Regions from separate parts of the Homo sapiens genome. Here region 2 is linked to region 1. The links come from fine-mapping of genetic effects on gene expression. A gene starts in region 1. The other region holds a variant in brackets. All regions are shown on one strand. Distances are between the middles of the regions.

Evidence for each region. PIP is the estimated chance that this variant, and not a neighbour inherited with it, causes the effect.
Region 2: its variant is fine-mapped to the expression of GPR83 in cerebellar hemisphere (GTEx, PIP above 0.99). The same link has a PIP of 0.9 or more in cerebellum.

Annotation. Positions count from the first base shown.
Region 1 is chr11:94,396,432-94,409,079 of GRCh38, forward strand. It overlaps GPR83 (G protein-coupled receptor 83), which reads right to left and starts at 4,988. Exons shown (of 4, transcript NM_016540.4): 1 at 4,430-4,988; 2 at 1-93. The coding sequence starts at 4,816.
Region 2 is chr11:94,194,930-94,207,577 of GRCh38, forward strand. It overlaps LOC105369435 (a long non-coding RNA gene), which reads left to right and starts at 2,480. Exons shown (of 5, transcript XR_947901.3): 1 at 2,480-5,062; 2 at 7,468-7,619. The variant G/A (reference allele first, on the strand shown) is at 5,683.

The DNA of each region.
Region 1 (12,648 bases):
CAGTGCTGAGACGTGCAGTGAGCAGTACTGGGCAAAGCGGCTGACATGGCACATGCCCTTCCCAAATATCCATGTGCTGTTCACAAAGCGAACCTGGAGATGAGCCCAAAGATGTTAGGAGACAGACAGGCCTTGACTTTGACACCCATCCCTAGAGGTCTCTGAGGAGCATGCCCTTAGGGGGATTCCTCCAGCTCCTCCCTTCTTTCTGTCTATGATACTGAATTGTGGAGTAAACATGATTTTCTCCAGCACAACTCATTTTCATTCATTCAATTCAACAAACCCTGATCATGCTTCTGGGCCAGGCTCCATTAGGTGCCAGGAGAGCCTGGGAAGGATGTGTGCTATGGAGTTGGACTTCCCACCTCTAATAGTTTCTTACTGTGAGGGCTTGGGCAAGATAGGTAACCTCTCTGAATCTGTTTCCTCATTTGCAAAAAAAAAAAAAAGCCCTAAAAAATCTCTTCCTTATAGGCTTAGTATAAGGTTTAAATTTTTTAAATGTCTGTAAAGGGCAAAACACAATGTCTGGCAGATTGTTCAGATATTATTAGAAGTAAATAGTAGCTATCTTTATGTGCAATAACAAAATTCATTCTTGGTCCACACAAGTTCACTCTAGTAGGGGAGACATATCTGAATTGTCACAACATAGCATGTGGGCTGTGCTGGCAAATCTTGGCTAAACTGGCCTTGCAAGTCATCATCTGGGGAGGACACCCAGGGACCTGGAGAGGTATGAACAGGTGTGGGGAGAGAAGACAAGCTCCCCAAACCGTGTAGGGCCCTAGAAGCAGGCCCGGTCCTTATCCCACATCACCCAGCACTATTTACTCATTCAATTAGTACTTGAGCAGCTCCTGTGAGTAACGTCCCATGCCTGAGAGAGATTGAGCATTGATTCTGATTAAGGAGTTTGCAGCCAGGGCAGAGGCGGGCTCAACTCAAGTGCAAGACAGAAAGTAATCAGTGCTCTGTAGAGACTGATTAAAGGGCAATGGGGCCACCACATAGGGATGGGAGTGGGCAGAGGCACAGAGGCATAGAAATAGGGCAAGTTGGCCCAAGAGAAGGAGTATAATGTAGTGACTTACAGCAGGGTGTTTGCCACTGATCACTGTGACCTTGGGCAAGGCATTGGGCCCTCTGAGCCCCACTTTCCTCATCTGTAAAATGGGCTAACCCTTTTCACATGGTTGTTACATCAATCAAGATTGTTAACACATGTAAAGTAGGTACAACAGTGCCTAGTACATAGCAAGTACTTAACGCTATCAACTGCCATTATTACAACATATGAGACATTTGAACTGAAGAGGGATTTGCACATGTGGAGATGAGGACAAAAGGCATTGGCACTGGATCAGAAATCCCAGGACCTGTTTGGGGAATAAGGAGTGGATTGGCTTGTCTGGAGTGTGTGAACAAGAGTCATGTCAAGTCCGGCCAGATCTTGAAACTAGGACAACAGACCAGGGATGTTACTTTCTTTGCAGAGGACAGGGAGGAGCCATTGAGGCTTTTGAGCAGTTCAGTAACATTATAGAGCTAGAAATCTTCAGCTATTCCAACTTCTCACCCTTCACATTGGGATTACCAAATCCAACCAGTTCTGCCTCTCACTGATTTTCAAAACTGTTCCCTCTTCTTCAGTCCCAAGGCCATGGGCCTTGTGGGGTACCCCATTATCTCTCCCTTGGACTATTATAGCCTCTGAACAGCTTTCCCAGTTCTCCAGGTTTGTCACCTTGGAATTCAGCCTTCACACTCCTGACAGCATTTCTGCTAACCACAATCATATTGTTGTCACCCTCCTGTTTGGAATCATCCTGGCTCTCAGGACAGAGTATCCAGGCCCCTTCACAACCTGGCCCCGCCTTTCCTTCTGGCCACCTCCGCTTCTCCCTCCCCTGCCCACTCCTCCGCTGTGCTTCCTGATGCTCCAGCTTCATTGAGCCACTCAATGTTCCCTCAACACAAAGTGAACTTTGATGCTTCGATGCCTTTGTTCTCCCTGGTCCCTCTGTCTGCACTAAGTGTTCATCTCAACCCGGGAAATTTCTATTCAGTCAGGTCCTGTTGAAATGTCACATTCTTTGCAGTCTCCTTTGACCCTCTCGTGGGACTCTGATGGGTCAGAATGAAAGACTCCCTCCTCTACGTTCTCTGTGCATCTATCTTTATCTACCATGGGAACTGTAAGTAATTGTCTGCTTTTCTGTCCATCATCAGAGCTAGGCTTCATGCTGACTGCAGTAGATTAAGTGGACAGGAAGGGAGACCAGGGAAGAAGGATATTGTTGCCAATCAGGCAAAGGCAGGGATGCCTTTCCCGATGGGGGAGCCTGTGCTGAGTAAGGCCAAGGGGTTGGAAGTCCCTCCCCACAACCTTCTCCCTTTCCTACCTGCCAGCACCTTATAAACTGTAATCCAAGTTTGGATTGGGGCAGCTTGATGGGTCAGGTTCAAGGCTAAGCTGCTTTGGCTCATACTGGAGGGGGTGCTGGGCTCTGAGGACCTTGGCATCCTGTCTCTTGCAGGAGATCCTCTGGGGCAGGTATTGCCAGCTCTCAGGTGTAGCCTGTCCTCGCGTCCATGGCCTCCCTACCCCTTCTTGTGTCTGCTGCAGATCCAGCCCTGTATCCTGGCTCTGGGCAGCAGCAAAAAAGGCCATGTTCTGTGGCTTCCCAGTTCCCAACCTAGGTAGCACAGCCCAACCGTACCACTGTAGATTCTCAGGTCAGAAACCAAGGGAGGCGCCAACGGGTGACAGGGATGCTGTTGTCTTGTGCTTTGAGACACCCAGGGAGGAGGAGAGTATTTGAAAGCCCACTCATCCTTGGGTAATGCCCAGGGGATATTAAGTGGCCATCAATACGTTAGACGTAGGCTGAAAGGAGATCAGAACAAGTCCAGGGTTTGGAGTAGCAGAAGCTAAACATGGTCCAAGAGTGTCCTTCACTCCCAGCTGGCTGGTTAGTGGACCGACCTCTGGATTTGAGTTAGGGGATGGAATTCTCATCCTGGCTCTGCCAACTACTGGCCAGGTGGCTTTGGACAAGGGATTGAACCTCTCTGTGCCCTAGTTTTCTCATCTGCAAAATGTGAGTAATATTCTAATAAGTGAGGATGAGAAAGAGAATGTGAGGGTACTTTTTCAATATAAGATTTGGAAGGATGTTCACACAGGTGATGGACTTGTGGGGGTTCATCCTGTGTTTTTTGCTTGTCTGTTATATCTGGTTGTGTATGAGAGATGGCAAGGAGACAGACAGAGAGGGATTAATAGATATTGCTTTAGTAATCACTCAAATGACAAAGTTATTCCATAAAATGAAAAAATATAACACACTAGAGAAACATGCAGTATAACTGTCACTATGGTTGCTCAGTCATCGCCCTTACAGTCCCAAATCATCCATGAGAGCCACACTCCCCGGTCACAGCGGGACACCACCAGCGCTAAGTAGCCAGGGCTTGGGGAAGAATCCCATCAGCTGCCAATGTGCAAATGCCCCCAGCCTGCCCGATTTCTGGGGCCCAAGCCCACCTCCCCTCATTTCTTCCTCAACACAGACCTCAAACACAGCCTCATTATCAACCCACAGAAGGGAAATGCACTTTAAATAAGTGGTCTGGGAAAATGCACTTAATGTTCCATTAACAATTAGCAATTGTTTGATATTTCAGTTGTAGCACAAAGCAGTATCCCATGGGTACGGCTGGGCACTGAACAGGCTGCAATTCAGAGGGAGGGGGACCTGATCATCTCTGCTGACATTTCAGGGGCATTGATTTACTGCTCAATTATCAAGCAAGCCCAGACCCAGTGAGATTAAACAGGAAATGGTCATTCATTTCCAGCTGGCTGCAGACACTCAAACCATTGACCCAATGCCACCGCCGCAGAAGCTCTGGCTGATAAGGCGATGAGACAGAAAAAAGTGGGGAGAAATCAGAGAGTGAGGCAGGGGAGAGAGGAAGAGAGGAGAGGTGGGGAGAGGAGAGGAGAGGAGAGAGAATAGAAAAATAAAATCACAGAGAGACTGACAAGAAGAAAAAGAGATAACAGGTGAGGAGACAGAGACAGATGAATAGGGAGGCTGAAAGACAAAAAAAAAAAAAAAGATGAGGACACTGAGAGATAGAGAAGAGAGACAGAAAGACTTCAGAGAGAGAGACAGAGACTGAAAGAAAGACTAAGAAAAACAGGAGAGATACAAGAACCGAGATGACAGAGGAGGGAGAAAAGAGACTAGGACAGGAAGACAGAGGCAGAGGAGAGGAGAAATGAGGAGGAAGAGAGATGTGGAGAGAGAAGTGGGGACCCACAGGGAGACGCAGAACGGCAGAGGGAGGCCAGAGAACTGAGAGAGGAAAGGGAGACGAAGACAGAAGGTGGGGCGGCAGGCAGCGGGCCCCTTACCAAAGTGAAGGGGGTGTTGAGCAGCGTGATCATTATGTCGGCAACTGCCAGGTTGACGATGAAGAGGCTGGTGGCCGAGTGCATTCGCTGGTTCTTGAAGATGACATGACAGACCAGGACGTTGCCAAAGAGTGAGAAGACAATGATGAAGGAGTAAGCCACAATGAGCAGGGCTTTCACCGTGGGGTTCTGGGACTCAGCGCCGTAGCGCCTCCTGCCCACAAAGTTCTGCCAGTCGGAGAAGGTGTAGTTGTTCCAAGAGAAGAAGTGCGAGGCATTGGGCACGGCCAGGGCCGCCTCCGCGCTCTGCTCGTCGGCCCGGCCCTCGTGGGGCTCGGTGGCTCGCACCAAGGGGAGGAGACAGAGCAGCAAGAGGTGAGGGACCATTTTGCAGGAGCCACCCCTCCCCTGGGAGCCTGCGGGCCGGGCGTCCCCTCCCGCTGGGATCGGAGCGCGCAGCCGGGGTGCGGGGCGCACAGCATACAAGGCCGTCCCGAGGAGCCAGGGAGCCCGGACGCGCGGAGCACCGCGCCGCCCGCCACCAGCCCGCGGTCGGCACGCCAGCTCCGGGTTTGTTGGAGCACTTTTATATCTCTGCTCCCACCAGGCTGCTAGGGAGCGCCTCTGCCTATTGGGCAGCGCGGCGTCTCTCGCGGCGACGGTGACGCGCTCTGGCTCTGACAAGCCTGGCTCCCCCCACCCTACCGGGTGGCGCCGTTGCTGACCCCACGCCCAGCCGTTCCCACTCCCGCCTGAAACTCCTCCGACAGGGCTTCGCTTCGGGGGCTCAGTCCCCAGCGCGTACACACTCGCGTGGTGTCGGCTTAGCCTCTTGTAAAGGAAGCAGGGCAGGCAGGTGGGAGGAAGCCCACAGGGGCACTTGGGATGATGAGGGGGCATGCTGGCAAAGCCGGGTCAGTGACAAGGATATATTCCATTTGTTTCCACCTAAGCCTTAGCCTTGGCACAGTTTCAATATCGAAATGGATCGCTGCGTCCCGGCGGTCCCAGGAAAAAGGCAAACCAAAAAATAGAGACGTTAAGGATTCTCCAAGTCCCCGGAGTATCCAGATACCAGAGGTGCTGGAGGGCTTATTAAAGGATTACAGTTTCTTTGACAGCCCCCAGGAATGCAATCTGGGGAGCTTTGTTTTTCAAGGAAACTCTTCAAAGCAGTTCGGATACCATCAAAGAAGCGAAGGAAAAGAGAAGTTTAGCTGTGTGCTCACCTCTTGGGTAACTTGAATTTTTCTGCCATGGAAGTCCTTGAAGCTATATCTTTAAGGGATATTATGACCCATGCTGTTTTTCCTTCCCCATCTACTTCTTCAGGAAACCTTGCTATCCTGCTCACCCGTTTTCACTTCCACTGTGAAAACTCTCCCAGTCACTGGGTCCTCTGCCACCCACAAGCCTGTAGTAAAGACCATGGGCTCTGTAATTAGGGTTTAATCCCAGCTTTGTCACTTCCTAGCTGTGAAATCTTGGGCAAGCCATTTAACATTTTTGGCCTTGGTTAAAAGGCTTTCTTTTCCTAAATGTGAGGTTTTCAGAGACCCCTGTATACATCTCTCACTGCATTGCCCTCTGGTGCAAGACATGCAATATCTGGTTGACTACTGGTAACCACCCCTGACCCCCAACAGGAAACACCATGTAGATTCTTTACATTGTGTCAACGTGCCCTGGGGAGCAATGTCCTTGGGCTGGGACCCAAACAATGACTCAAACCTAGGTATTACTCTTGTCTCCAGTTTTCCACTTCACATGTACTCTTCAAGCAACTGTGTCTGGAGGAAAGGATGGCTAGCAGATAACCCTCAATTATACTGAAGGACCTGGCAGGTCTCACAGGATTAAATGGCTGAAATAGGGGATTATGTGACAGATCCTAGAAGGGACAAGGTGCTAGGCCGATGAAATAATACATCTTTAGCTCCAGGAAATAAACCAAGAGACTGCCTGTAAACACTGAAAGCTTGGGGGCCGGGCGCGGTGGCTCACGCCTGCAATCCCAGCACTTTGGGAGGTCGAGGCGGGCGGATCCACGAGGTAGGAGACCGAGACCATCCTGGCTAACACGGTGAAACCCCATCTCTACTAAAAATACAAAAAATTAGCTGGGCGTGGTGGCAAGCGCCTGTAGTCCCAGCTACTCAGGAGGCTGAGGCAGGAGAATGGCGTGAACCCGGGAGGCGGAGCTTGCAGTGAGCCGAGATCGCGCCACTGCACTCCAGCCTGGGCGACAGAGCGAGACTCCGTCTCAAAAAGAAAAAAGCTTAGGTAGACTTGCTGCTCCATCAAGATGACCTGGCATCATCTTGAGAGGCAAGGCCGGAATATGATGGTCATTTAGAAAACAGAATCCTAGTCAATTGACTGTGCCCAGTGTCAACAAAGAGTGTATGGATAGAAGAGGAATAGTCAGCGTCAAGCTCAGAGAAAGAAATCAAAGGTAGCCAGTGCCCTTCCAAGCACTCTCTTCCAAGTACCACAGAAGGTGCTTGCTAGCCGGCATATTTGTAATCTGGGCCACCTAACTAATGTCTTCACTTTGATTCCCTGCTCATCATGCCCACCTTGTAAGTGTGAGGGCATTTACACCAGAAGCCTGAAACTTTCTTTCTGAAAGAGGTGAGGTGTTTTAGTTCTTAGCTTTCCCCAAAAGCATCTCCTGTGACAAATACTCTAGTGAGAGGGTTCATTTGGGAGATGAAGGCAAACACCAATAGGGAAGTGGAGAAGTGTGACAAGAAAGGGAAAGCAACCAATAGAGTTTTGTCAAGCCAGCTACCACTGTGGGTGACAAGCTGAAGCCTGCTGGGAAGCCAGTGTAAGGTGTACACATCAGCTATCCAAGCCAAGGGGTGACAGAGCTGTGGTATCTGTACTCCACCTCCTGTTAGTCACTGGTTGAAGGCTTCTCCCAGGGGTCTGCTCCTTCTCCCAGGATGCTCCTGAACTTCTGGCCTGCCATGTGGATAGCCAAAATGGGCTCCAGAGGCAAAACAAGGGCTCAGGCAAATAAATGCTACTGCTGGCAGTTGCAAGTTGCACTGGTGTGCTCTGAAGGGGGAGGCGGTCCTGAGAAAATCCAAGGGTAGGCATGAGGTCTGGAATCACTTCCTCTTCCTCTTCCCCAGGCATTCAGCTCTCCACTCAGCCAGGCCTGGGCCTCCTGAGCCCTGCCAAGCCCTCCTCTTAGCCCAGCACCACTGTCCCAAACTTATCCTGAACTCCTGAAGTCACAGTCTTTGAGACAGAGTCTCGCTCTGTCACCCAGGCTGGAGTGCAGTGGCGTGATGTCGGCTCACTGCAAGCTCCGCCTCCTGGGTTCACGCCATTCTCCTGTCTCAGCCTCCCAAGGAGCTGGGACTACAGGCGCCTGCCACCACACCTAGCTAATTTTTTCTATTTTTTTGTAGAGACGGGGTTTCACTGTGTTAGCCAGGATGGTCTCGATCTCCTGACCTCGTGATCCACCCGCCTCGTGATCCACCCGCTTCGGCCTCCCAAAGTGCTGGGATTACAGGCGTGAGCCACTGTGCCCGGCCGAAGTCACAGTCTTTAATGAAACAAGAATATCCCTTCACCTTACCTCACACGAAGGCTGAGTTATTAAAAGTAGTTCTTTTCTCAGAGGCGTTATGGTAAATCACTGTAAATCACTGTTGCTCTTACTAAGTGGTTACAGGAAGATACAAGCAGCTCTTACAGTGAACCAACCTCTTGTTTTTGTACATTACAAATAAAACCAAAGACACTGAATAGTCAGTTTGTGCCAAATAGTAAGTATATTCCTAGATCTCTAGTAATAGTCACACACAGTAAACACAGAAAAGAGCAGAGGGTTTCACTCTCTCAAATGTACTTGAAACAAACAAAAAAACCAATAAACCACTTCACACTATTTTAATAAAAATGAGACCAAGAATTATAGAACACAGTAGTCCCCCCTTATTGATGGGGTAAACATTCCAAGATTCCTAGTGGATGCCCAAAACTGTGGATAGTATCAAACCCTATACAGGCTACACATGAATTTCTTTTTCCGTCTTCACAATTTCATGGATAGAAGATTCGTTCTTATTACAGATCTTAGCAGCCTCAGCTTACGATTTTTCCCTCCTTCCTTATTAAATCAAGAACTTTCACCTTTTCACATAAAGGAAGTATTTTATAGCTTCTAGCTGGCATATGCTAATTGCCAGCATTGCTACTCTTGCAGCTTTGGGGCTACTATAAGTAAAATAAAGGTTAGTTGAACACAAGCACTGCAATACCTTGACGGGAGCTCTGACAACTGAGGTGGCTACTGAGTGACTGAGGAGGAGGTACTGCATGGATATGCTGAACAAAGGGAGGATTCACATCCTGAGTGGACAGAGTAGGGTGGTGCAAGATTTCATCAGAAACTGCAGAAAACGAAACCTTGGATAAAGTGAGACTACTGTAACATCACATAGAGGCCTACGAAAGAGGTTTTGAGAGTCTCACCACATCAGTATTCCTGACGCTGCAAACAATGCCTTTTTATCACCAATATTATTCTCTGAAAAGGCCCTACTTGAGTTAAAAACTCACCACACTCACATTTCCTTATGGTACTAATCACAGTGGCAGAAGGGAACAAACAGCAGTTCAACACAATGCCAGGCACATGACAGTCAATCCTAGTTTAATTGTACCAGTTGTATGTCATCATACTTGAATTACAAATGAACCAAGTAAGCCTGAAATACCAAGTACAGCTGAAGATATGCTCAAATGCAATAAAAATGCAAAGTGTGTAGGCAGGCTAAGCTAGGAATTGCTTTCCAAGTTCCAGCACACTGAGCCATAGAGTAAAAAGGTATATTTAGGATATGCAAAAAGAAGTACAACCAAGCTCCAACTTCAGTTTGTGGCCCCAAATTAAATTCTAAGTTGCTTGAACTTACTCTGCAGTTCTACATAGAAATTTTTCTAAATGGTGGCTAGGGTCTTAAGCCAACTCCAACAACCCATTTAACCCATATACGGATAAATGGTAGCATTTATCGTAGCATTGCTAGCTAAAGTTCAGGGCTCCAAGATGTTATGCTCCATTATCTGCTCCTCTTGAATTAAATGTCCCCCTGGGTGATCGCAGCCACCTTCACTGGTTTAACCATCCATTACTCACCAATGACTCCAAGATCTGTACCTCACTTACCACCTGTTAAAAGCTCCAAACCCGTATTATGTAACATTTCACTGTTGATCGGACATTATGACCTGGAATACCCACCCACTTCAACAAGCTCCAAACTCAATTCATTATGTCCTGCTCTTCCCTCACTTTCTTGTACTTGCTCCTTTTCCTATTCACTTGTCCACCATGGTTAGAATCTTGTGGTCATCTCACACATTACCAATTACATGACACTGTGTATTTGAGGATGCTGTTTCTCTGCCTACAGTCATCCACTCCACCACCTTAGAGCCAGAAAAACTCTATTCTTCAAGACCCAGCTCAAATGTTATCTCCCCTCTGAAGACTGTCTGACCCCCTTGACTGCCACAACCCCAGAACAAGCAAAGTCAGTGTTCCCAAATCTGCTCTTTTAAAAGTGCTCCCATAACATATGATTCATTCTCTGATACTATACTTTCCTTGTTGGGGTCTCATGATTTGCTACACGTCTATTTCCTATGAAACTGTCAGCATTACCAGGCCAGGAACTACTGTCTTCCTAATGTTGTCTCCTACAGCCTAGTACTAAGACAGGGAAAACAGGTAGTACTAAGGTTGAGATACTGTCTCTGGAATCAGACAACCCAGGATGCAGGTCTTTATCTCTCTAAATACTCTTTTATCTCTCTAGTAAGTTCCTGGGACATATCTAATTATTATTTTATTTTATTTTTCCATAAGCTATTGGGGTACAGGTGCTGTTTGGTTACATGAGTAAGTTCTTTAGTGGTGATATGTGAGATTTTGGTGCACCCATCACCCGAACAGTATACACTGCACCATATTTGTAGTCTTTTATCCCTCACCCCCCCCACTCTTCCCCCAAGTTCCCAAAGTCCATCGTATCATTCTTATGCCTTTGCGTCCTCATAGCTTAGCTCTCACATACCAGTGAGAACACAGAATGTTTGGTTTTCCATTCCTAAGTTACTTCACTTAGAATAATTTCTCCAATCTCATCCAGGTCACTGCAAATGCTGTTAATTCATTCCTTTTTATGGCTGAGTGGTATTCCATTGTATATATATATATATACACCACAGCTTCTTTATCCACTTGTTGACTGATGGGCATTTGGGTTGGTTCCACGATTTTGCAATTGTGAATTGTGCTACTATAAACATGCATGTGCAAGTATCTTTTTCGAATAATGACTTCTTTTCCTCTGGGTAGATACCCAGTAGTGGGATTGCTGGATCAAACGGTAGTTCTATTTTTAGTTCTTTAAGGAATCTCCACACTGTTTTCCATAGTGGCTGTGTTAGTTTACATTCCCACCAACAGTGTAGAAGTGTTCCCTGATCACCGCATCCATGCCAACATCTACTGTTTTTTGATTTTTTTATTATGGCCATTCTCGCAGGAGTAACGTGGTATCGCATTGCGGTTTTGATGCATTTCCCTGATGATTAGTGATGGTGAACATTTTTTTCATATGTTTGTTGGCCATTTATGTATCCTCTTTTGATAACTGCCCATTCACGTCCTTAGCTCACTTTTTGACGGGATTGTTTTTTTTCTTACTGACATGAGTTGGCTGCAGATTCTGGATATTAGTCCTTTTGTCAGATGTATAGATTGTGAAGATTTTCTCCCACTCTGTGGGTTGTCTGTTTACTCTGCTGACTGTTCCTTTTGCCATGCAAAAGCTCTTTAGTTTAATTAGGTCCCAGCTATTTATCTTTGTTTTTATTGCATTTGTTTTTGGGTTCTTGGTCATGAAATCCTTGCCTAAGCCAATGTCTAGAAGGGTTTTTCCAATGTTATCTTCTATAATTAGTCCTTTCCCCACTTTATGTTTTTGTTTGCTTTGTCGAAGATCAATTGGCTGTTTAAGTATTTGGGTTTATTTCTGGGTTCTCTATTCTGTTCCACTGGTCTATGTGCCTATTTTTATAGTGGTACATGCTGTTTTAGTGACTATGGCCTTATAGTATAGTTTGAAGTGAGGTGGTGTGATGCCTCCAGATTTGTTTTTTTTTGCTTAGTTTTGCTTTGGCTATGTGGGCTCTTTTTTGGTTCTATATGAATTTTAGAATTTTTTTTTCTAACTGTGAAGAATAATGGTGGTATTTTGAAGGTGACTGCATTGAATTTGTAGGTTGCTTTTGGCAGTATGGTCATTTTCACAATATTGATTCCACCCATCCATGAGCATAGGATGTGTTTCCATTTGTTTGTGTCATCTATGATTTCTTTCAGCAGTGTTTTGTAGTTTTCCTGGTAGAGGACTTTCAACTCCTTTGTTAGGTATATTCCTGAGTATTTTACTTTATTTTTTTTGCAGCTGTTGTAAAAGTGGTTGAGTTCTTGATTTGATTCTCTGCTTGGTCACTGTAGATGCATAGAAGAGCTACTGATCTGTGTACATTCATCCAGTATCTTGAAACTTTGCTGAATTATATAATCAGTTCTAGCAGTTTTCTGGGGGAACACTTAGGGTTTGGAAATTAAATAACCTGCTCCTGAATGAGCTATGGGTCAAAAACAAAATCAAGATGGAAATTAAAAAATTCTTGAACTGAAAGACAATAATGACCCAACCTATCAAAACCTCTGGGATACAGCTAAGGTGGTGCTAAGAGGATAGTTCATTGCCCTAAATGCCTACATCAAAAATTCTGAAAGAGCACAAACAGACAATCTAAGGTCACAACTCAAGGAACTAGGGAACTAGAACAAACCAAACCCAAACCCAGCAGAAGAAAGGAAATAACCAAGATCAGAGCAGAACTAAATGAAATTGAAACAAACAAAAAATACAAAAGATAAATGAAACAAAAAGCTGGTTCTTTCAAAAGATAAATAAAATTGATAGACCACTAGCAAGATTAACCAAGAAAAGAAGAGAGAAAATCCAAATAACCTCACTAAGAAACAAAACAGGAGATAATACAGCTGAAACCACCAAAATACAAAAGATCACTCAAGGCTACAATGAACACCTTTATGCATATAAACTAGAAAACCTAGAAGAGATGGATAAATTCCTGGAAAAATACAA
Region 2 (12,648 bases), 200 kb before region 1:
GAGAAGCTACCCAGGGAACCCCAGCCCCCAGGGCCATTGTGCAAACCCGCGTGGGCACTGCCGGAGACACACACTCTGCCTGCTTCAGCGCTCCTCTCCCCGGGCCAGGGCTGCCAGCTCATCCTGCCCTGCCTGGCTGGGGTGGCAGAAGGTGAATCCCAAAACAGGCCACTGGCTCCTCTCATTTTCTACTCCTTTCTCTTTTGTCATTTATTAGTTTTAGTTTTAATTTTCAAAGATGATGCAAGCTATTGATGAGTATACATTTATTGCAAAAGAAAATCGGATAATATAGAAATATAGTCATGCATCACTTAACAATGTAGATACAGTCTGAGAAATGCTTCTTTATGTGATTCTGTCATGTGAACATCGTGGAGAACTTACCCAAACCTAGCTACTATAACCTAGATCGTATAACCATATGATGCAGCCTATTGCTCCTGGGCTACATACCTGTACGGCATGTTACTGTACTGAATTCTGTAACACAGCATTAAGTATGTGTGTATCTATCAACTCTAAACGTAGAAAAGGTGCAGTAATACCTTAAAAATAAGGTATGTTGTATGTGCAGTCTGTCCTCAACCGAAATGTTATCACTATGCAATGCTTGACTGTCTATGGAGTGAGGGTCCTCCATGCATTGCTGCCTTTCATAAGCCCAGTCTGGACTGCCCAGCAGAGTCACGGTTATCACCAGAGTGTCCACCTCCTTGCTCGTCTTGAGGTCTTATACTTTGCACCAAGCTGCCTTGGTCACCTGTTTAATGATTTTAGGACTGAATTGTTTCAGAAGGGAAAGAGCATCATAATTTTCTGACACATATTTAAGCATATTTTTCTATCAACATGTAACATTTTGGTCAAGTGCCACTAGTTTGAGGAATTCTTTTTCAACTGGATTTAAAGAGGCTCTGAAGGCCAGCAGATGCAGTTTTGCTGCACAACTTAAAGAACTTCCTTGATCTTCTAACAACACAATATTCAACCAAGAAATAATGATAATATCACTTACTCCAGAAGACTCTTGTGAGGGTTAAAAGAGGGAACAGATGTCAGCAACTACAATGCCTGGCACAGGTGAAGCCTAATATTAGTTCTGGTTATTTTATTAGAATCTGTTGTTGGCCTTACAGTAGAACTCTCAGTAATTTTTTACCGTATTTTCATGTTTTATTTTTTTATTTTTTTATTTTTGAGATGGAGTTTCGCTCTTGTCGTCCAGGCCAAAGTGCAGTGGCGTGATCTCGACTCACTGCAACCTCCACCTCACAAGTTCTCTCTTCTTAGCTCACCTCCACCCTGGGGTCCCCTCTTTCTTCCTGCAGCCCCCAGAACAAGCCGACAACCAACCTGCCCTCAGATAACTCCCCATCATGTCATCAGAAGAGACATGCACTCAGGTGGTGGTGCACAGGCTTAGGGGGCAGGCGGGAAGTCTCCTGGCCCTAGGAAAAGTTTCCTTCACAAAGCACCTGCTGTGGTAGGTGCTTTGCTAAAGCACACAGTCTAAATGAACTAGTTTACCCCTTACTATGTAATAATGAGTAGGTTGGCACCCTCCCCAGAAGAGTAAACAGAAGCCTGGGAGCTCCATGACCTGCCCAAACCACACGGCCAGGATCTAATCCTGGGCCAGCCTGACTCGAAAACCCGAGTCATGTCAGTGCTAACTGTGACCAGAGGACTGCTTGCATCAGAATATGTGGACATGCTTGTTAAAAAGGCAGATTCCTGGGCCTCTCCACAGACCCACTGAGTCAGGACCTCTGGGGCAGGGCCTGGGGATGTGCATTTATCACACCTTCCTGGTGACTCTGAAACATACCAACATCTGAGAATCCCTGCCCTGTGCTGTACTGCCTGCCTGTGCACTGAACCAGGGGGACCCAGCAGAAGACAGCTAGGAGAAGGGGAAGTTGTTCCAGAAGGATCAGAATCTGTCAACACCTGTTTATTAGGAAGATCTAGTGGCGTTTTTGGGAACCAAAGGAACAATGAAGGTCCCTGAGGACACCCCCACTATAGGCCATGCTAGAGGCCTGGTGCCCTGCACACATTTCTAGCTCCTTTCACCAGTTCCAAGAAAAGACAGTGTTCTGAGAGGGCACGTACATTCACAGAAGCAACAAGGCAGCACCAGCTGTGGCCCACTGGACTATCTTGGCTTCCCACCCTGACTCAAGGGCTGGGCATCCCTGATGGCCCTGTGCACCCCACCCCCATGAGTGTAGCCCACCCTGAACTGGGGCTGAGTGCTGCCAATGTGGTTGGCCCTCTGATAGGGTTTGGCTGTGTCCCTACCCAAATCTCAACTTGAATTGTATCTCCCAGAATTCCCAGGTGTTGTGAGAGGGACCCAGCAGAGATAATTGAATCATGGGGGCTGGTCTTTCCTGTGCTATTCTCGTGATAGTGAGTAAGTCTCACGAGAACTGGTGGGTTTATCAGGGGTTTTCGCTTTTGCTTCTTCCTTATCGTCTCTTGCCACTGCCATGTAAGAACTGCCTTTTGCCCTCTGCCATGATTGTGAGACCTCCCAGCTATGATGGACTGTAAGTAAAATTAAACCTCCTTTTCTTCCCAGTCTTGGGTATGTATCAGCAGCGTGAAAACGGACTAATACACATCCTTAGTTGGAAGGGAGCCAGAGGGGTCAGAAACATCCTTTATGGTGGAGGGGGCACTTTATGTTGGTTGTCTAAGTGAGTTTGGGCTGCTAGAACATGAACACCACAGACTGGGTGACTTAACAGAAATGTATTCCTCACAGTATGAAGTCTGGGAAGTCTAAGATCAAAGTGCTGGCTGATTTGGTTGTTGGTGAGAGCTCACTTCCTGGTTTGTGGAGGGATGCCTTCTCACAGTATCCTCACGTGACTGAGGGAAAGCTAGCTCACTCCCTGGCTGCTCCTTAAAAGACACTCATCCCATTCATGAGGGCTCTACCCTCATGATCTAATTACCCCCCAAAGGTTCCACCTCTAGACACTATCACATTGGGGATTACAGCTTCAAAATATAAATTTTGGTGAGACACATACATTTGGTCCATAGCACTGACGTCGTCTCATTTTGTAGTCCAATAGCAGGAAAAAGAGGGTCAATTATCCCCACTTTATAGATGAGGAAGATGAGTTCTGAGACAGGGTACGGAGGTAGAGTAGAGGGGGAAAGAAGCTAGATGAAGGGCGTCATATCCCCTAATTTGTCCTGAGGTAGGGAGGGGGAGAGCTGGTAGCTGTCACATGAGTGGTCACTATATAGACAAATAGTGGGGCCCACTTCCAGGGCAGGACTCAGAAGCACTAGTGGAGGGTCCAGTCCAGAGAAGGGACTCCACAAATGATGCCGCTGTAATTATTGTCTGATCATCTATTCATCACACATTTTCTGAGTACATCCTCTGTGGTGAGCACTACTCATATGTTCTTTATCATCCTCATGGACATGACACCCCACTTGGCCTGCGGTGGCTGGAGACCTGGGGAGGAGTCATATCACAGCTTTTAGACCCACTCTGACATCGAGGTTAAATGCAACTTTAGGGCCAGCAAGTACAAGCCTTATTCTGCCACTTACTAGCTGCAGGGCCTGGGGTGGCACTTGGCCTCCCAAGGGAAGGTGCTCTTTTCCCCATTTTACAATTGAGAGGACAAGATATGAGAGGTGAAAATACAGACCTCCCTGACTAGAATTCATTCTCCCAACCACCATGCACACTAGTGTTTCCCAGAGGTGGTCCTGCAGGCTTCAGAATCTTGTGAGGTGTTTGGAGAGTGATTCCTGACCCCTCCTCCGACTCAGTAAATCTTGACAGTGAGGCCCCAAAATATGAATTCTTCACAAGCTCTGAAGGTGATTCTTATGTGTGTTGGGGCTTGAGAATTGGCTCTCCTGCCTCCTCATTTCCAGTCTTTAAACAGGGATCTGCACAGCAGCAGGCAGCAGAAGTAGGCAGCGCTCTGGAAATACAGTTGGCAAAAGCTCTCTCCCTTAAAACTAACAGGGAGAGAGCTAACTCCATGACTGGCATGACATCTGTGAACAAAGGAAGTGACAGGGCCACCAAGAACTGCTGTGGGCCAGTGAGAGCAACAGAAGACCAGGTCCTAGCCTTCCCTGCTGAGAACTTTACCCATTGCCTAGTGAGAAGGAACTGGAGATGCCATCAGAGCTGCATCGTAGTAATGCTGGTAGATTTCAATTTTTACAATTTATATTTGTTATGAATGTATTCACCATTCCTTAGAGTATGTTTAATTATCCTCAGTCTTTGTTCTGCTTTTAAAATCCACATTGAAAAGGCAAAGTGACATGTGCTTAAGAGGTCTTTAATAAATACTTTGGTCAAGAACAGGGAGGGGGTAGTTTAATTCCTCCTGATTAGACCCGCCTACTTCCCGGCCATCTGAAATTTAAATTTAAGTAAAAGTCAGTATGCTTTCTAAATAAATGCAGTTTCACAACACAACCTTTAGCCCACACTCAAGCAACTATATGGCTGCCCCTAATTCCTCCTCTATTGACATTCAGGAGCTGCCAGGGTTTCTGTAAAAGTACCTGAACACAGTGGATCAACCAACAGTGGCTCTGGGGTTTAGAGTTTTGAGCAGCAGCTCAGAATGATATCCATCTGCCTTTCTGAATCACAGCCAACTTCTGGCCTCTCTGCACAGATTTGGTGCAGGAAACTAGCCATACCCACGCCCACACCCACAGCTCGCCCCGTGCCTCCTTCATCTTCATAATTCTGCTCCCACCCTCTTCCCTCTTCCTTGCCCTTCAAGTTGCAACACTGAACTGAGTTTATGGATGATGCTCAACAATTTATTGTTGATTAACTGATTGATTGATTCTGTTGCTATGGAAACCATCAGATTCTAGTACAACAGTGGGATTCCTTCCTGACTTTATGCTTGACAAAATGCTGACTCTCTGTGCTTGCTTCTCCCAGCTTGCCACCTCCATCTGGGTCAGGAGGAGCAATTGGAAGCAGAAGCTCCAAGAGAAAGGTGGGAATGTTGGTAAACCCAGGTGAAAAAAAGCAACAAGGAGGGTAAGTGGCCCTGCAATGTGGAAATTTCCATCAGAAGCAGCCTACACAGTGATTATAAGTGTCAGGGCTTTTAGATCAAGCTATACCTGGGTTCAAATCTCACTTCCTCCACTTATTAGGCTTAAGGTTAATTAAGCCTTTCAGCCTTCATTTTCTCATTTGTTTTAATTGAGATAATACTGTGCCTTTAGGTTGCCTGGAGAAATTACGAAATGATACAAGGAAGTTAGAAAGCAGAGTGCCTGGTACCTACGGGAGCCTTGCCCAGGCCAAGAGGGATGCAGACCTCCCATTTTTTAAGGCTCTTAGATAGAAAGTGAATAGCAACAATATTACATAAATTGAGGAAGAGCTTTATGTATACATTTTTTTGAATTATCACTTTTTTAGTACAAAAATACAATGCAAGATTATAGGAATTCTAGAAAATATTAATTCAAGGTTCCTCATGACTCTGTGTCTAGAAATTAGACACAAAGTCTGAATGATAAATATCTTCTTCTCAGGAAATCTTTGTGATTTTATTTATAAATTGTTTGAACATGATGTCATAGTCGAAACTTGTGGTCCTTTGTGACTGAGCTGCCCAGCATTCTGCCTCAATAAACCTCCCTGGACAG[G/A]GTAAGTGTTCATTTAGTGATGGCCACACCTGTCATCCCAGCACTTTGGGAGGCTAAAGTGAGTGCATCACCTGACATCAGGAGTTCGAGACAAGCCTGGCTAACATGGTGAAACCCTGTCTTTACTAAAAATACAAAAAAAATTAGCTGAGTGTGGTGGCGGGCACCTGTAATCCCAGCTACTCAGCAGGCTGAGGTAGGAGAATCACTTGAACCTGGGAGGCAGAAGTTGCAGCGAGCCAAAATCAAGCCATTGCACTCCAGCCTGGGCAACAAGAATGAAACTCTGTCTAAAAAAAAAGAAAAAAGAAAAAAAAATTAGTAATTTTCAGCATCATCATAATGTCTCCAGTGAAGCTGAAACCACCACACATACTGCAGATGGAGTTTTGTCACTGTACACTGCACAATGATAGGGACCCCTGGGGCACCTCCAGACAGCATGAAGGTGACTGACCTCCCTGTAGACTAACCTCCTAGACCCTGTGCATCAGTGTGACGAGTGCATGCATTTCATGACTCAGTTCAAACGGCAGCTCCTCTTTGAACAGGACCCTGGCTGCTCACTCATAGTAATGCCCTTTTGTGTACTCCCAGTGCAGTTTATTTATACATCTGTTTAATAATTACCAGATGCTTCCAGTGTTCCCTTTGCCCCCTTGGAGTTAAATTCTTCCCAGCCCTTTTGGAGTTAAATATGGCCACATGAATTTGATGAAGCAAACATGAGTGAAAGTGACATGCTCCTTACGAGCTAAGGCACAGTGTACTAGGGTTCCTTTCCCTCTGCCACAGCAACCAGCAACAGCTGCTATGTCAGCCTGGGCCCTAGAGTGAGAATTATATGAGTGGAGGCCATGAACATTTAGGACAAGGTTTGTTGATTAAAAACACTGAAAGTTGTCGATTGTTACTGTAGTATTAACTGACCTATACTGATTGATACATTCTGTTTTAGACTGACTGTATTGTAAAAATTCTGTTTATATGTTTGTCTGTCCTCATAACCAAGAATTTTTTAAGGGTACAAGCTGTGTCTTACTCATTTCTGATTCTGGAGCTTCCAGCACAGTGCCAACATGCACTCATATATACATAATGGATGCTTATTAATATGTGTTGGCTAGACAAGTAAACTTTAAGTGCGGTCTGTTTGAGATATCACTACATTCATTGATGGCTTCATGCCATTGCCACATCTATGCTTTTTTGGAATAAGGTCTTCATATTCCATTTCTTTATCACTTCTCGTCCTGTGGTATAAGAGGTCGTCTACCACGACATCATGGGTTATTCCCACATCTTCAGCAACTCTCCTGATTGTTTCAGACATCCATTCATCCATCCATCCATCCAGTCTTCCATCCATTCCTTTACTCATTTATACATATGTTCATTTATTCATCAAATATTGTCTGAATGTCCACTGTGTGCCAGGGACTGTGCAATAGGCTGGGAATATGGATATGCATAAAATGTATTTATCTCTCTCTCCTCTCCATCTTCCCTTCCCTGTGAAGGGACAGCAAGAAGCTCCAAAACAAAGGTGGAAATGGTGGTAAATCTGGATGAAAAAAAGCAATGGAGACGGGAGATGAGGGCACCTGTGATGTGGAAAATTCCATTAGAAGCAGCCTACACAGTGATTATGGGTATTGGTACTTTAGGCTCAATCTAGACCTGGGTTCAAATCTCAGTTATTTCACTGATTAGGCTTAACTTTAGTTAAGTCTTTTACTTTCTGTGTCCTCAATTGTAAAATTGGAATAATATCTGTGCCTTTAGGTTGCTAGGAGAAATGAATGAAATGATACAAGTAAGGTAGAAAGCAGAGTGCTTTCTACAAGCCAAGAAGTGGCCCCCCAACAGATACCAAGCTCTGGACCTCCTGGTGCCTTGATTTTGGACTTCCCAGCCTTTTTCAGACCTGTGAGAAAGTAAGTTTGTTGCTTAAACCACCCAGTCTCTGGTATTTTCATTACGGCAACATGAACAGACTAAAGGGAAAAAAAGACAAGCAAACAGATGTGAAAAATGCATTATATAACAAAAAATGGTTGTCAATGCTAAGTCTAAGTTGTTTTTATGAACAAAACCTTTCAAGTTTGAAAAATACTTCCCTAGTCTAATCATCTTGTTTTTCAGACAAAGAAACTGAGGATTTGCTGGGTCAGGGAAGCAACCTTTTGCTTAGAACTCTGCTAGGTGGCTTAGGGTGCTTGAGAATCATGAGGGTCTGACCTAACCCAAGAAAGACAAGCAGTTAGGACTAGCTCTCAGCCTAAGTTTGTCAGTCTGGCTTTCCAGATCCGCTTCCATGATACACCACTGAGGGTTTTTTGTGGAAAAAAAAAAGTCAGGGGCCAAATTGGTACCATTGAATATGCTAGAGCAACATCTATTAACAGACCACATGCAGGTCTAATGAAACACTCCCGGGGGGTTGTGTTCTCTCTGTTTGTGTATCAGCTAATAGGAGCCCTGACTGTCACAGGGCCAGAATGCATGTGGATGTACCAGCTGCACCTATGTGTGTTGGGGTGGGAGAGGTTTTCAGGGCTTGGTTAAGCTGCATAGGCCATGACCTTGTTCCCTGTGAGGAAGCCAGAGTGTCCTAGTGGATAGAGGAGTATGGCCCTTGTCCTGGACAGATTTGGGTTCAAATGCTGAGTCAGCCACTTAAATATGAGCGTACTGAATTTCCCCATCTGTTAAATGCAGATAACAATGTAAGTTTGTTGATAAGCGCCATTGAATAATTTACATAAAGCACAGAGGCTAGCCTATGAAAATCCACACTATATGGCAAATGTTATTGTTCCCAATGTCATCGTTAAATAAGATAACATATACAAAGTTATCAGGCCAGAGGGTGCTCAAAACAAATTATTTATTGTTTTTATTATCAATATTATATACAAAGCATGACATTCTTAATAAACCAGCTTTGGGATGTCAGCAAGTTGACAGAATAGAAGCTTTCTACTGTTATTCTTTTGCAGAGGCATCAGTTTTGACAAGTACTCATGAATAGTGGGAGTCTGGGAGTCCAGTGGAGAAGTTTTTGTTTTTGTTGTTTTTGAGATGGAGTCTTGCTCTGTCACCCAGGCTGGAGTGCGGTGGCACGATACCAGTGGAGAAGTTCCAGCACACTGTTGGAGAAAAAAATCTGAGAATAGATGCATGAAAAGAGTAAGAAGAACAGTTTTGGCCAGGTGCAGTGGCTCATGCCTATAATCCCAGCACTTTGGAAGGTCAAGGTGGGAGGAGCACTTGAGGTCTCAGGAGCTTAAGACCAGCCTGGGAAACACAGTGAAACTCTGTCTCTACAAAAAATGTTAAAAACAAAACAAAACAAAACTTAGCCAGGAATAGTGGCATGTGCCTACAGTCCCAGCTACTCAGGAGGCTAGAGCAGGAGGATCACTCGAGCCCAAGAGTTCCAGGTTACAGTGAGCTATGATCACACCACTATACTCCGGCCTGGGAGATAGAGCAAGACCCTGTCTCTTAAAACATAAAATATACAAAAAGAGTTTCACATTACGCACATCACCTCTCCTCTATGGTGGCATAGCTTGGTGCCAAGAGACACCCCCACCCAGTCCCATTTCTCCCATAGGGGAAAGTAAGAGCATAGTGAGTGACCATCCATCTCTCCCAGTCATGCAAGGTGCTGCCAACGAGGCCCACCTCTTTCTTACCTCACCTGTATTAGTGAGGTGATCAGCAAAGCTGACAGGCTGGGAGAGTCTGGGAGCAAGGAAGAGATGTTGTGTACCCTACTAACTGCTCCATAGATTCCATCAGGAAGATTGCCCATGAGCTGTTTGGGACACCTCATCTATGGACCCCCTCCACACCTGATCCACCAGCATCCCAAATGCTCTGTGCACCTCATCTTCCCTCCCCAGGCCAGCTCCTCCTCAAGCCTGTCCCCGTGGATGGTAAGTTCATCCCATGCAGATAGCTGACTTGACTGTACAGGATTAGGAGAAGGCATACAAAGTTGAGCGTTTCAGGGCACTACCCTGTGGAAAACAAATGAGAGGCTTTCAACATCTGATCTGGCTTTGTGGGATTGAGAGAGGCAATACAATCTCAAGAATTCCCTGCCAAAAGGGAACAAGAAGTATGAAACAGGCACATTCATAAAAAAGTTTTGAGTGAGCCTCAGAATCCATAGGCAGGATAACTGGTATAGGCATTTCTTTCCTTTTCCTGAAGCCAGTCAGTAAAGACTGAAAAAAGTGATTGTTTTTTCAAGTGTACAGACAGCAATACAAGACCTCAAGGAACAGGAAAAATTAAGGAAACATGACAATACGAAAATAACACAATAATATTTCAGTAACTGATGCCAAAAAACGGTCATCTACAGATTGCCTGACAAAGAATTCAAAGTAATTGTTTTAACCATTGTAGCTCAGAAAGCTACAAGAGAACACAAATAAAAAACTAAATGATATCAAGAAAACAATACCTGAACTAAAGTTCAATAAAGAGATAGGAGTCACTTAAAAAGAACCAGACAAAATTCCAGAGATACAGAATATAAGGAATAAAATTTAAAAATGCAATAGAGTTAACAGCAGACTTGGTCAAACAGAAGAAAGAAACTATGAAATCAAAGACAGGTTACTTGAAAATGTTGAGTCAGAGGAGGAAAAGGGAAAAAAGAATTAAAAAAAGAAGACAAAAGCCTAGAAGATTTATGGGATACCATCAAGAAAGAGCTAACATTCATGTTATGAAAGTATCAGAAGGAAAAGAGAGAGAAAAGGTTGCAGAAAACTTATATGAAGAAATAGTGGCTGAAAATTTTCTCAACCTAGGGAGATATGTGGATATCCAGTACACGAGACTCAAAGGATCCCAAATAGGTTCAACTCAAGGAAGACTTCACAGACACATTATAACTGAACTATCAAAAATTAAAGAGAATTTTGATAGCAGCAACAGAAAAGAGTCTTGTCACATACAAAGTAATCTCTAACATTATCCGCAGGCTTTTGGCAGAAACCTTACAGGCCAGGAGAGAGTGGGATGATACATTCAAAATGCTGAAAGAAAAAAATTTTCAACCAACAATACTTCACCCATCAAAGCTGTCCTTCAGCAATGAAGAAGAAAGAAAAGCTTTCCTAGACAAAGAAAAGCTGATGGAGTCCATTCCCACTAGACCTATCTTACAAGAAATGATAAAGGGTGTTCTTTAAGCTGAAATGAAAAGATGATAATCAGTAACATGAAAACATTTGAAAGTCTGAAACTCAGTGGTAAAGCTAAGTCAAATAGAATAATACTGTAGTGGTTCTTTGTAAATCACTTATAAGTATAGTATAAAGGTTAAAAGATGAAAGTATTAAAAATAGCAATAGCTATAATAATTTGTATAGGATGCAACAAAAGCAGTTCTATGGGAGAAGTTTATAGTGGTAAAATGTCAACAGGAAGTTAAAATAAGTCTCACATAAACAACCTAACTTTACACATCAAGGAACTAGAAAAATAAAAACTAACATCCTAAAGTTAATAGAAGAAAGAAAATAATGAAAATCAGAGCAGAAATAAATAAAAAAGAGAGAAACAAAAGATGAACAAAACTAAGACTTGGATTTTTGAAATGATAAACAAAATTGATAACCTTTTAGCTGGACTAAGAAGAAAAGAGAGAGGACTCAAAATCAGAAAAAAGGAGACATTACAACTGATACCACAGAAATACAAAGGAGCATAAGAGACTATTATTAACAATTATATACCAACAAATTAGATAACCTAGAAGAAATAAGTAAGTTCCTGAAACATATAGTCTACCAGACTGAATCACAAAGAAAGAGAAAATCTGAACAGACCAATAATGAGTATGGATATTGAACAAGTAATAAAAAGCCTCCCATCAAAGAAAAGTTCAGCACCTGATGACTTCACTACAGAATTCTACCAAATATTTAAGGAACTAATACAAATCATTCTCAAACTCTTCCAAAAAATTCAATAGAGGGAACACTTTCAAACTCATTTTGCAAGGGCAACATTACCCTAATACCAAAACCAGACAAGAAAACTGAATTATAGGCCAATATCTCCGATGAACATAGATTCAGAAGTTCTCAACCAAATACTAGCAAACCAAATTCAACCACACATTAAAAGGACTGCACACCATGATTAAGTGGAATTCATCCCAAGGGTGCAAGGATGATTTAACATATGCAAATCAATAAATGTGATATATCACATTAACAGAATAAGGGATTTAAACCATATAATCATCTCAATAGATGCAGAAAAGGCCTTTGGCAAAATTCAATTTCCTTTTTTAATGTCCTTTTATTTTTATTTTTTTGAGGCGGAGTTTCACTCTTGTCACCCAGGCTGGAGTGCAATGGCATAAACTTCGCTCATTGCAACCTCTGCCTCCCAGGTTCAAGCGATTTTCCTGCCTCAGCTTCCAGAGTAGCTGGGATTACAGACACCCACCATGATGCCCAGCTTATTTTTGTATTTTTAGTAGAGATGGGGTTTCGCCATGTTGGCCAGGCTGGTCTCGAACTCCTGATGTCAGGTGATCCACCCGCCTCAGCCTCCCAAAGTGCTGGGATTATAGGCATGAGCCACTGCACCTGGCCCTTAACGTCCTTTTATGATTAAAAAAAAAAAAAAAACCTCAACAAATTAGATACGGAAGAAATGCACTTCAACACAATAAAGGCCATAGATGACAATTCCACAGTTAACATCATACTCAATGGTGAAAAGCTGAAAGCTTTTCATCCAAGATCTGTAACAAAACAAGCATGCCCAATCTTGCCATTTCTATTTAACCTAGCACTGAAAGTCCTAGCCAGAGCAATTAGGCAAGACAAAGAAATAAAAGGCATCCAAATCCTAAAGTAAGAAGTAAAATTGTCTCTGCAGATGACATAATCATAAATAGAAACACTAAAGATTCCATAAAAT